Regions from separate parts of the Homo sapiens genome. Here all the other regions are linked to region 2. Evidence: fine-mapped expression QTL. A gene starts in region 2. Each other region holds a variant in brackets. All regions are shown on one strand. Distances are from middle to middle.

Region 1 (4,000 bases), 33 kb before region 2:
AACTTGACAGAAACAAAAGTAGGTTTTGTTCAAAAGTCAGTAAAGGAGCAGAGGAAATAGACATACCATGAAGTCGGCAGGAAGTGAAAGAAAAGCAAATTCTGTTTAGCCAGGAATAGGAAAAAAAAAAAAAAGAGTAAAAATCATTCAGCTCCTCAGGAGAAGCTGTGAATGCCTCATTGTTTGATAATTCCGAAGTCCTATTAGACCACTACCCAAAACTCATTTTAAAAGCAACCCTGTGTCTGTCTAACGGCAGTATAAACAATTTATTTGTTCCCATCTCCACTTTTGATGACTCTGCAGAGATTTTTGGAGAACGAAACATCAGTTCAGCTTCTCCTAATAACATTTACATAAAGTCAAAACTGGTGATCTAACTCTAATAGGCCAAGTGGGTGTGCACTCACTGCTGGGTTCTTCTAAAGCAGAGAGGTGCCTCCAGTTGGCTGTCTAGGGGCCCATGTAGTCTCTGGAGTGGAGAGCTGCTTATCCTAAATAATGAGCTGTGCATGAAGAGGGGTTCTATGGAACCCACTTTGAAAAACATGCAGCCTGAGTGATCTCTTCTGTGGCTATGGCCTAGATAACAGCTCCACCAGGAGAAATACAACTCATCCTGGAAATGAAGATCATTTGCGTACAACCTAAAGCACGCTTCATGGCACTCAACACAGACAACATGCGTGCTATACACGTAAGGTGTTTCATCATAATGATCTCCTCTGTGACCTTCAGTTTCATCCTCTGTGTGAGAGGGAGATGAGCATGCAGCATTTACTTTGCCAACTCTTCTCAAATGAGATCAGGTACCTGACAGGGGGATGGTAAATGCATTACACAACGTAAAACACAGGAGAAAGAGAAGCAAATGGCTTGGTGGAATAGAACTCTGGGGTGAGACAGGCAAAGACTCAAACTGCAGCTCTCTCACCACTAAATGTGGCCTGGGCCAAGCCACTCACCCACTCCTGCCTCAGTTTCCTCACTTGTAATATGAAGGTAATGAATGAGATAGTATAAAGTGCTTAGGGCAGTGCCCAGCATCGAGTCAGGTTAAGAGATGGTAGCAGCTATTATTATCATTGCATTGATTATCGCCATCATTATCTTTACTATTATTATCATCATCATCAATGTTGGCCTCACAAGATCCCCCTTCCTTCCATTTCAGGAAATCCACTGTCTCAAACCACCACTTATTTCTTTATTTTATCCTTAGGATCAATCCTTCAAGATAAGAGAATTTTATCGTGGAAGCAGAGCGAGTGGCATCTCCCCACTGCACCAGAAAGGCTTCTGGAGTTCACGCACTGCCCTTGGCTCCTCCAGTTGCTATCAAGTTGATTTACTTCTGCATGGAGCATCTTAGGACCTAAGAATAGCAATGATGAAACCCAGAAAGAAAAGGCAGACTCACAGGTATTGGGAAATTGGAAATGAAGCCGGATTGTGGCGGGGGTAGGGAGGGAATCTTGGCCAGTTCATTACAAGTCCATCCCAAAATGAATCTTCAAAGTGAAAATAATAATAAAATTCATGTAGTGTTTAGTAGATAAACTGTGGGGTCAGATTCCTCCTGCTGTGTATATATAGGAGCTGTGCTCGATGAAGACCAGCTGGCTTTGATTTCTACTGAGAATGAAACACATTGAAATAAACTTAAATGAGATCCTCAGTCACAAAGACAGCAAATGAGTAGATAGGAGTCAGTGGAATTGGTACTGAAAGTCCCTTTTCTGTCGCGTTCCCCATGCTGAGAAATACACAGAAAGTCACAAACTGCTGCTTATAAGACAGGAGTTCTGGAAACTCCGAAGACTCCAAGAACATGCAAAAGAACCCGAACACCACACTGGCCTCCCCGAATGAGTTAAAGGCTTAATAGCACTTTTT[G/T]TGTGTGTAGCGTTGATGTCCTTTCCTTTTTTAAGGATTTGTGGTAAAATATACATAACATAAAACTTTAACCAATCTTAAGTGTACAGATCAGTGGCATTAAGTACATTCACACTGTTGGTGCAACCGTCACCGCCATCCATCTGCAGGACTGTTTCATCATCCCACACTGAAACTCTTCTGCATTCAACATCTCCCCATTACTACCATTCTCACAGAAGGCTCCTACATGCTGCGTATGGGCAGAAAGCAGCTTTCTAAAGAGCCAGGCACCACAGTTGGTCTGGTGGCCCTCCGAGCGAGCCCCGAGCCTTCCCCTCCCACCTTACCGTAGCTGAGCCATGTCTCGGCACAACTCAATGTTCGGCCGTCTTGTGCGCTCATCCAGTCTGGTCTGAGCCACCTTCAGGAAGGCAGTCTTGTCCTTGATGGCCTTCTTGATGGATTCTATGGTCATTTCAGTCTGGAAAATCTCCTGCAGGGTCTGTGACAAAGAGAAGCAACTGCCTGAGGCTTTGGTGTGGTCCCTTCAACAACCCGCCTCCCACCTCTTGCCTGTCCACTCCATGTCCAGCACGTGCCTTGACCTCGCTGATGAGGAAGTTGCTTCACCAAGACCGTCTATCCTTTCCAGCCCTGCCCCAGGGAACCCACGTGTCTCACTGGAGCTGGCATGCACCTGCTCTGGAGAGTGGGCGGCGCCTCTCTCCCCAACCCTAGGCTTGGCAACCTCATTTTGGTAGCTGGAAATCAGCCAGGGTGGGAGTATTTCAACTACAGAAATTGGCAAATGCTCCAAATTAGGGGCTCCCTGCAAGCTGCCCCCAATGGCCGTTGTTAATTACTGACCAGCACACCTCTGTGTTCTGATAAAAGTGAGGCTTTGAGTGGCCCTGATCTCCCTCCTCACATCCATATATCTGTGCATCTCTTCCCACTTTCTCTTCCTACCAACTTGAGCATTGCTTTCCTGCTCACAGAGGATTTCCCTTGCAGAGAATCAGGCTTCAGTTTCAGGTACCTCACTTGCAATAGAGGAGTACTGGCAGTTTTGTATTCCTGATTTTGTATTCGTTTTTTCTTAAAGAGGCCACCACCCCAAATTGCGTAAACATGGATCCCCCTTTGGTTCTCCCTCCTCTTTCTCTGTAAAGAGAGTCCCTGTCCTATGCTCTGAAAAGCCTCCCTTCTCCACGCATCTTGATCTCTGCACTCCTGTAGCTCCACATCCTCCCCATTACTGTCCCTCTTCCTGGGTTCCCTTCCATGGCCTGGAGACACAACCAAGAATCATCTTTTTTTTGGAAACCCTATGTTTTTACCACCACTCTCCCATCCAGTCCCAACTGAGTCCTCTGCCAAATGTATTCAACCATGGCTGTGCCCACTGCCTTCACTTCCCACCCACCCAGTCTCTCAGTGGCCCCTGGATTCTGTCTCTGGCCCTAGCTGCTGTCATGAAACTTCAGTTTCAAAGCTGACATCGAGGCCTCTCTGACACCTCCCTCTCCTTAAGACCCTCATCTTGTTTTCTCTTGCCAAGTGTTGTTCCAACTCCCTCCTTTCCAACTACTCCTCATTCCCTTCCAGTGCAAGGCTTTGTCCTTGGGTGATGTCTCTGCAATATCCTTTCTACACTACAGAGACCTCGTGCAATCACAGATTTAGCATTTGTGTCATCCAGGCACTCTTCAATCTGTCACTTGAGCTTCGACCTCTCTCCCAAGCTAAAAATCATTTCACTGTTTCTATCACTAAGGCCTTCTTCAGATACTATGTGCTCCATGAAACCATCTTGATCTCTTGCCAATGGAAACAACTGCTCCTTCTTGTAAACTGTGTTCACATTTCATCTGTGTTTCCAAGTTCTTTCTGCACCTTTCTGATGCAAATTCCCGTTTTCTGTGTGCATGTCTTGTCTCTAAGACGTGAGATGTATGTACATCCCCGAGTGCCTAGCACAATACCTTGAGTGTACCTGTTAGGGCTGAATAGTGCCTCTTCCCCCAAAATTCCTATGTTGAAGTACGAATCGCCAGTGCCTTGGAAGGTGACCATATTTGGAGATAGTGTCTCTGTGGGGGTGATTAAGTTAAATGAGGTC
Region 2 (4,000 bases):
CACTTGTCCTTCTGCCATATTATGATGTAGCAAGAAGACCCCCATCAGATGTAGCCCCTGGATCTTGGACTTCCTAGCCTCCAGAACTGTGAGCCCAATAAATCTCCGCCTTTATAAATCACCCAGTCTCTGGTATTCTGTTATAGCAGCAGAAAACTAAGACATGTGCCCAAACAGAATTTTAAGAAATGAGACATGGGCTACAAAGTCAAATACAATGTTTGACTAGGTGCACTTAATTTACAGTCAACTGTTATTTACATACTGAAAAAAATGCTACAATAGTCTTCCATAAATATTAACATACTAAATATAGAATCAATCACACAGAGATTTTAAGAACCGGAAAGCTCCATTTGCTATCCAAAAGTTGGCTTCATACTGGGTAAACATTTTATTAGCATATTTAAGCAAGACTGGAAGATCATAAATATTTTAAAGTACAAAAATCTACAGACCATTTTCTGCAGAAGACACAAGTTTACATGACTTGCCCCACACCCTGCCTTAGATCAGGGGCAAGCATAGGCTTGAAGGGCTCACATACAAACCCCTTTAGTTCCTTTGTAGCCACTTAATTACAGTTCTAAATAGGAGCGGAAATAAAACAGCGCTGCCAATACACTAACAAATACCAGAAGTAGAAGAAATCATATCAGACATCAATGTTTAATTTCTCTTTATGCATATATTACATAAGAATACAGGAAAACTTCATCTCTTCAAAAAAAAAAGTTTGGTTAAGGAACTCTATTCATCGATGGTATATAAATTATTACACTTTGGAGAGCTAGATGGTGGTATCCAGTAAAGTTGAAATGGCAAATTACCTGTGACTCAGCAATTCAATTTCTTGGTATGTACCTAGAGAAATGCAAATATGTTTACAATTAGAATGTACAAGAATTCCTTTCTAGTATTTTTAAAGGGAGCAAACTAAAAGTCCATCAACAGGAGGATGCATACATAATATGTGGTAAATTCATGCAAGAATCACCACACAACAGTTCAAATGAATGACCTGCAACACGTACAGCATAACCATTCTATCAACTTAAAAAGTAACAGTAGGCCGGGCGCGGTCCTCATGCCTGTAATCCCAGCACTTTGGGAGGATCACGAGGTCAGGAGTTCGAGACCAGCCTGGCCAACTTGGTGAAACCCCCTCTCTACTAAAAATACAAAAAAAAAAAAAAAAAATTGGCCAGTTGTGGTGGCAGGCACCTGTAATCCCAGCTACTCAGGGGGCTGAGGCAGGAGAATCGCTTGAATCTGGGAGGCGGAGGTTCCGGTGAGCTGAGATCATGCCATTGCACTCCAGCCTGGGCGACAAGAGCGAGACTCCGTCTCAAAAAAAAAGTATACATTGGTTTAGGATAAACATATGAGTAGTAAAAGTATAAAAATATGCAGAATATAAGTAAATGCTAAATTCTGTTGGTTAATAGGGATAGGTAAGGAGAGAGGGGAATGGGATTTCCAAGGGTTACATAACAGACCTTAATTGTGCCTGTAATCGATTTTTTGTTGGTTTAAGTTTGGACTGGGTACATGGATTCACCCCTGGGTTCACTCTACTTATTGTGTGAAGTATTTTATTTTAAAGAAGAAAAAAGTAGAATATTTTGTCAGTTACCTCAAAACATTTTCGCCTGTTAGTAAAACTGTATATTTTTTTCACAATAATCAAACAAATAATTTTACCCATTTCCAGGATGTTTATTTCTCTACAATACTATATACATCCAGGAGAAAACATAAAGGGGTTTGGTCTAAACTGCCCAAACACAAGCGAAAGCTTTGCAGCCAAGCTAAACAGAAACGACTTTGGGCGGTGAGAGAACAGCTTTGATCTGAATTTAAGGAGCTCGGTCTACAAGACCAGGTGATTGAACTCTCCTCCCCGTGGCTGCAGATCTGAAGGCTCGGCTATTGAAGCAGAGGGGGACGAGGAACAGCGTGCGGGGCGGCCAGCACCGCAGTGGAAAGGCACAGCGCTGCTAACGGGTAATTATTAGAATTAAGAAATTAAACGAATTAGCACAGTGTCGGGGGTTCGGATGCCCCTTCCCTGGGCATCCCTTGAAAACCCTTGAAAAGCATCAGAAAGGTAAATTACGAGGAAACCAACGTCTGGGTGGGAGGTGCCTGTGGATTTGTACGGTTTTTATTTGGAAGGAAAAGTGAAGATCGCGGGGAGGAATTGCAGGGTGTCCGCGACCTCCCGCGATCCTGAGGCGAGAAGTTGGAGTCCTGGTTGGCGAAGGGGGATCCTTTGGGGTAGTCCTAGAGGCAGGCTAGAGTCAGCGAGACCACTCACCTGTCGGCGGATGCCCGGCGAGGGGCGGGAAGGGGCTGTGGGAGGAAGGGGTCGCAGCCTACCACCTGCAGCCCTCGACTGGGGCCCAGACCAGTCTGGCCCTGGCCCCGCCTTTCCTATCTGTGACGATAGCAGCGCCTGAGGGCCACTCAGCGGCCGCCCCGGCCGGCTCGCCGGAGCTGACTGGCCAGTTATAGGAGAGGCGGGAGCTGTCAGGCCAGGAGGGAAACCCGTCGGGCGGCGGTTACTATGGACGCGCTCACGCTTAGTAACCGAGGCTCCCCGCCCTCCGGGAGACCTCCTTGGTTTGGGAGGTGAAAGGGGTGAAGAGTAGCCCAAGGGAGAGGCCTCGGTGATTTCCCGACCTCTCCTGTGAAGCCTGATTCGGAACTCTTCCAGCTGCGAAGAACTTGGCCGATTCTAAGGCACATCAGGGCTGCCTGGAACCCTAACACCTGCCTAGGTGTTGACAAGCCCCCACCTTTCCTGACCAGCCTCTCTTCTCTCCAGCAGAGCTTCTCCTGTGACAGAATTATCTAGTGTTCCTTCCCTGCTTCCTCACTCTAAGAAAATGGTTTGGGCTTTCCCTCTCTCTCTTCAGCAAATATTTCCGTAAACAGCAGCCCGTACTGTTTCTTCCAGGTGCTGGCCCACATTTTTACATACATACATCATTGCTCATCCATGCAACCTCTTTCCAAACCTGTAAGAGGGGTTTATATTGTACAGATGAAGAAACTGAAGTTCGAGAAGTTAATTGACTTAGACAATGTGACTCAGTGGCAGAGCTAACACTAAAACTCAAATCAGTCAAACTTCAAGGCATCTTTCCATGAGGCAGCAGTCTAACCGTGTGAGCAGCAAGAGAATTCACCGAGTTACTTTGGTAACTAGTAATGCTAAAGAAAATAAAGCCCTCAGTTAATTATTTTTGGCTTTTCTGGGAATCACTGTGTGGCACTCCACCCAAGGACGAGGCGGAGGGACTTGCCAGGATAAGGCAGGCTGCCCAGCCCCTAGGAGACCTCAATGAAGTGACTTCAAGTCGGGGGCTGGTCCTCAGCTTTGCCAATTCAGACTCTTGGTTATGCCAGTGTCCCGAGTTTATTAGAGGCTGACTCAGGCCAACCGAACTCATGGGAACCTAATCTAGAAAAGTTAGAATGCTGCCTCAAGTGTTTACATTAAGCAACACGACCCCTCTAACTGTGGAGATGAGCCCAGAGTATTTTCCCCAAAGAGGAAAACCACAGAAAACACCCAGTGCTCAGAGGCTACTCATTTGCCTAGACACAAGACTAGACAAGGCTCCCATACCCGACACCAGGGCACTGCAAATCCTGACTAGTTTTCCCACTATGTTCCTTATCAGCAACTTTTTCTACATTCGGCCTAAGAAACATTTCACTCTGAGCTGTCTTTTTTTATTACTTTTTTCTCATGCATAGTGTTCTGCATTTTGTATTTTCAGTATTCAGCACGGGCTTTGCAGATGCCTAGAATCCGTAGACAATGCAGCAAATGATGCCATGTTTGTTCTTTGGGCCAAAAGACTGGCAACTGTTCTAAAGTAGATCTGATTGCCCACAAACTCTTTAAAGATGATGAGCAGTCTTTGTGCTTTGCACACATCTAGATGCCCAATAGCATTGCTAATTGAAGACAAAATTCATTCAATGT
Region 3 (4,352 bases), 190 kb after region 2:
TATAGGATTTCTCTTAAATTAATATAAGCAGCATCTATAGGATTTCTCTTAAATTAATATAAGCAGCATCTACTACATTCACTTAGAACACTAGACATTACCAACCATGATAGACCATCTAAATGAGAAAACTGCTTCTCTTCTCAAATTTCATAGAATGTCCATGCTGGTTTCCAAAGCACATGGCATCTACCTTCAGTAAGCAACACAGAATATTAGAACACCAGAGTTCAAGTTCGTATCTATACACTCTCCAGCTCCAACTAAGAGGGCCTAAGGGACAGACTGTTCATCAATGACTGTAGACTAATGGTTTTCGCCCCTTCAGGCCCACAGCCACTTTTTATCAGAAATATTTTTAAACATGTTTTATTATTCTAAAACACAAACAATATAACTTACGTGAGGCATATTTTTAAATCATCTATCATGATTAAAGGTATCTTTAATATCTAACTGTAATGTAACAGAGAAATAAAAGGAAGCAACTTACGGTAATGTGTAATTCAATCTGGAGATGGCCAAAACTCCTGATGACACAATCATTAGATGCTTGCATATGTACATATAATTACCATTAATGTACCCACTACAAATGCAGACTACTGCAGTAGTTTTGACCTGGAACTCAAATGCCATGAGCAATGTTGCCACTAGTGATAGTTTTTAAAATGATAGAAAACTCTTGGTTACGTACTGAACAAAGACTACAACCTTCCCTCACTTAACTGGTAATTGCATTTTTTAGCAAATCAAGTACTGCAGATCTACAACAAAAATATAAAATGGAGTTATAATCTAAGCTCAAAAAATTATTGTCAACGTCCACCCGTCAGAGATCATGAGGAACAGATCTGCGGTTGAATCGAGTTGGGTTTATCAACACACTTTTACACAAGAGAGATCACACACCATGGGGAACCATGGGGTGCCTCAGTATGAGGGTGCTGGGAAGGGCTTTTTAAAGGATTTGGGGTTGTGTTGGGTGATTTCAAGAAGGGCTCCATGAATCATGGTTTTACTCTGGATTAAGTGCTTTCAGAAAGCAAGGGAAATTCTAAATGAGTGTAAACATTGAAATTTTTAATCTAGGAGGAAGAAGGAACAGAGTGATCTAATGGGTAATGGAGCAAATATCACACATGTAAGCCAAGAGACAAGAATGTTTGGTCGCTCTATGATTTACACAGAATCTTGCTAAGTTCCAACATGCCTATGGAGTGTCTTAATTTTTGTCTTCCTCCACCACACTCAGAGTGGCCTTGTCAGATGTTGTTGTTATATAACATTGTTTATATTCAACAGAATATAATAGCCTAGCCATTAGGGCTAAATCAGCTTCCAGCTGACAGCTGTAGGGGTTGCTCTTCCTTTCTCATTATAAACAGGATTTCTATGTACATAATTATTCAGCGAGGTTCAAAGAAGTCATGAGATACAGGACAATTCTTTGTTGTCTAAAACTGTCCTATGCTCTTCAGGCACCTAGCATCTCTATTCACTTTCACTCACATTTCATTGGCCATTGTTAACCACATGGCCTCAAATTAATTAAGGAAGCTGAGAAATGTAGAACAAATGGAACGTTTAGTGAGCATTACTATCTCTACTACATGCAACCTTCAATAAATTATTTTACTTCTCTCAGTATTAGTTACCTACCTGTAACATGAGGTTACATGGTACATAATGGTCATTCTTCCCTCTTGGGGAGAATCACATGAGATAATACATAAAGGAACTTTAATAAGCTCTAAGAGTTATATAGATTTAAAAGGCCCATAGTACCTATATGTTGGAGTTAATGTGCCATCACTTCTACACACACACACACACACACACACACACACACACCCTTACCTATTTAGAGGTCTGGGTCAAAGAATACATACTCTGGGGGATGTAGAATTAGAATGTGATTTTACTAGGGCCAGGCGTGGTGGCTCACACCTGTAATCCCAGCACTTTGGGAGGCCAAGACAGGCAGATCACCTGAGGTCGGGAGTTCAAGACTAGCCTGACCAACATAGAGAAACCCTGTATCTACTAAAAATACAAAATTAGCC[G/A]GGCGTGGTGGTGGGCACCTGTAGTCTCAGCTACTTGGGAGACTGAGGCAGGAGAATCACTTGAACCCGAGAGGTGGAGGTTGCAGTGAGCCAAGATTATGGCACTGCACTCCAGCCTGGGCAACAAGAGAGAAACTCCATGTCAAAATAAAAAAACAAAAATGTGATTTTACTTCCATTTTACTAGCACCATTCAGTCAATTCACTTGTATCCAAGGCTGACCCAGGGAAAAAAAATGGAAAACCACTTATCCTCAGTCTCTCCTAATTTCTTCAGTCTTAATGAAATGATTAAAGTGTCACAGATTTTATTTTCTAAAGACTATCTCCCATCCCACATACTTCTTATTATAATGTAATCTTAACACTCCTCTCATCAAGTACTGGGCTCTATGTACCCTTCTATAGAAGCTGGATGGACCTTGGTTACTGCTTCATCCAATGAAGTATGACAGAAGACACATCATGTGAATTCCAAGACTAATCATTAAAATGCCATGCACTTCTCTTGCTCTCTTGGAAGGCTCATTGTTAGAACCCAGTGCCAGGTTGTGAAGAAGTCAAATGTGCCCACAGGGAGAAACTACACAGTGTAGGTGTTCCAACCGAGAGCCTAGCTGAGGCCACAGCTGACAGCCAATGTCAACCTCCAGGCCAGTAGCTGAAAAGCTCCCTGCCACTCCCTGGCTCCTTCCCCAGCCATCACTGTGCTCCATCCAAATTCCTGTCCCACACAATTTGTGAGCATAATAAAATGACTTTTCACCAGTAATTCTAGGAGTGGAATTTTACGTAGCAACAGCATCTGAACAGTGCAACTCGGCAGCAACTACAATATTCACTTAATTACTACATAAAGGACAACTATGTATTTACTAAATTATTACATCTCTAATACTGTACTAACAACTGGAGTTGTTAGTACAATATGGAAAGTTAGTTCAAATGGAAATAATCATGGATAATGCTCAAAGTGCACTGTATCGACAAGAATCCAGTTAGGCTATGAGCAACAGAGAAGCCAGAACATTAACACTTGAAGAAGGTAGTTCCTCCCTTCACTTTTATTAAAAGTTCAAACAGGTCGCCAGATACGATGGCTCACGCCTGTAATCTCAGTACTTTGGGAGGCTGAGGCGGGCGGATCACCTAAGGTCAGGAATTCGAGACTAGCCTGGCCATTGTGGTGAAATCCCGTCTCTACTAAAAATACAAAAATTAGCCAGGTGTAGTGGCAGGCTGGTAATCCCAGCTACTAGGGAGGCTGAGGCAGGAGAATCACTTGAACCCAGAGGGCAGAGGTTGCAATGATCCGAGATCACACCACTGCACTCCAGCCTGGGTGACAAGAGCAAAAACTCTGTTTCAAAAAAAAAAATTCAGACAAGTAGTTCAGGGCTACTATACCCACAAGATGGGATTCAGACAGTATCTACCTCATTTCTCTGCCATTCACAAAACGAAGCCTTTATCACATAGTCCAAGATGGCTGCTCTAGTTTCTGCTATTGTGTCTACCTTTCAGGAAAAAGGGGGAAGGGATGGGCGTGCCTCCTCCTTTTAAGGATACTTCCTGGAAGTGTATCCATTGGCCCAAACTTGGTGGTGTGGCCACACCAAGATACAGCAATAAAATCTAGGAAAAGTTTTATCTTTATTCCAGGATGCCATTCCCTAGCTAATTAGGTGGGAAATCTGTAGAAGGAGAAAAACGAATATTAGGGAATACAGGGTAGCTCCTACCACATGCATATTCTAAAATTCATTGTTACTTGGTTTAGGATGCAGTTCAAATAACACAGTTACCTAAAGAACTACACCAATGTATCCTTTGTTAGACTCTCAACCCTAAAGATTTAGGTTAGATCTTTCAGATTGTATTTTAAAATGTCTTTAGTGCAGTATCAATTCTCACCAGACAGAACAGCTAAGTAAAATAAACAAGCTCTTAACAAATTATTAATTTTTAAGAAAGGAAAGGGCATTTAGAGCAAATATTTTCTCTAAAAAATACTAATATATCATGTTTTATATCCTACAGATATTCCTGCAATCTGTTTTCCTTGGGAAAGTCACTCATTAACCTGAAGTTCAGTTATATCATCTAAAGTATTACATATTTATCATGAGGGTTACATGAGATTACACATGTCAAATGCCTTGTAAATAGTAGAATTTTATACAAATATAAAGTTTTGCACCTTCAAAGCTATCACTCCAATAAGACACTTATTCAATTAAACAAATAATCTTAAAAACTATTTTAACAATGTACAAATATATTCAC

Which allele goes with the higher level. Alleles are on the strand shown, and positions count from the first base shown. SD is a standard deviation of normalised expression in the study named. Not every link is listed here.
With allele A in place of G in region 3, the expression in thyroid of the gene that starts at base 2,400 in region 2 is higher (small effect, 0.33 SD a copy in GTEx).

What was found. PIP is the estimated chance that this variant, and not a neighbour inherited with it, causes the effect. A credible set is the group of variants that fine-mapping cannot tell apart.
Region 1: its variant is the best candidate, but not a certain one, in a credible set for the expression of TEKT3 in lung (TOPMed, PIP 0.55).
Region 3: its variant is the best candidate, but not a certain one, in a credible set for the expression of TEKT3 in thyroid (GTEx, PIP 0.84).

The regions. Positions count from the first base shown.
Region 1 is chr17:15,306,439-15,310,438 of GRCh38, forward strand. TEKT3 (tektin 3) reads right to left here. Exons shown (of 9, transcript NM_031898.3): 8 at 2,226-2,380. It overlaps LOC124903932 (a long non-coding RNA gene), which reads left to right. Exons shown (of 3, transcript XR_007065634.1): 2 at 1,223-1,422. Among named protein-coding and RNA genes, the nearest start is that of TEKT3, 33 kb to the right of the region's middle. The variant G/T (reference allele first, on the strand shown) is at 1,897.
Region 2 is chr17:15,339,198-15,343,197 of GRCh38, forward strand. TEKT3 (tektin 3) reads right to left here and starts at 2,400. Exons shown (of 9, transcript NM_031898.3): 1 at 2,321-2,400; 2 at 831-864.
Region 3 is chr17:15,532,759-15,537,110 of GRCh38, forward strand. The region is part of intron 4 of TVP23C-CDRT4 (TVP23C-CDRT4 readthrough); the gene reads right to left. It overlaps TVP23C (trans-golgi network vesicle protein 23 homolog C), which reads right to left. Exons shown (of 6, transcript NM_001135036.2): 6 at 4,222-4,352. Among named protein-coding and RNA genes, the nearest start is that of TVP23C, 29 kb to the right of the region's middle. RefSeq lists an enhancer at 3,255-3,754. The variant G/A (reference allele first, on the strand shown) is at 2,067.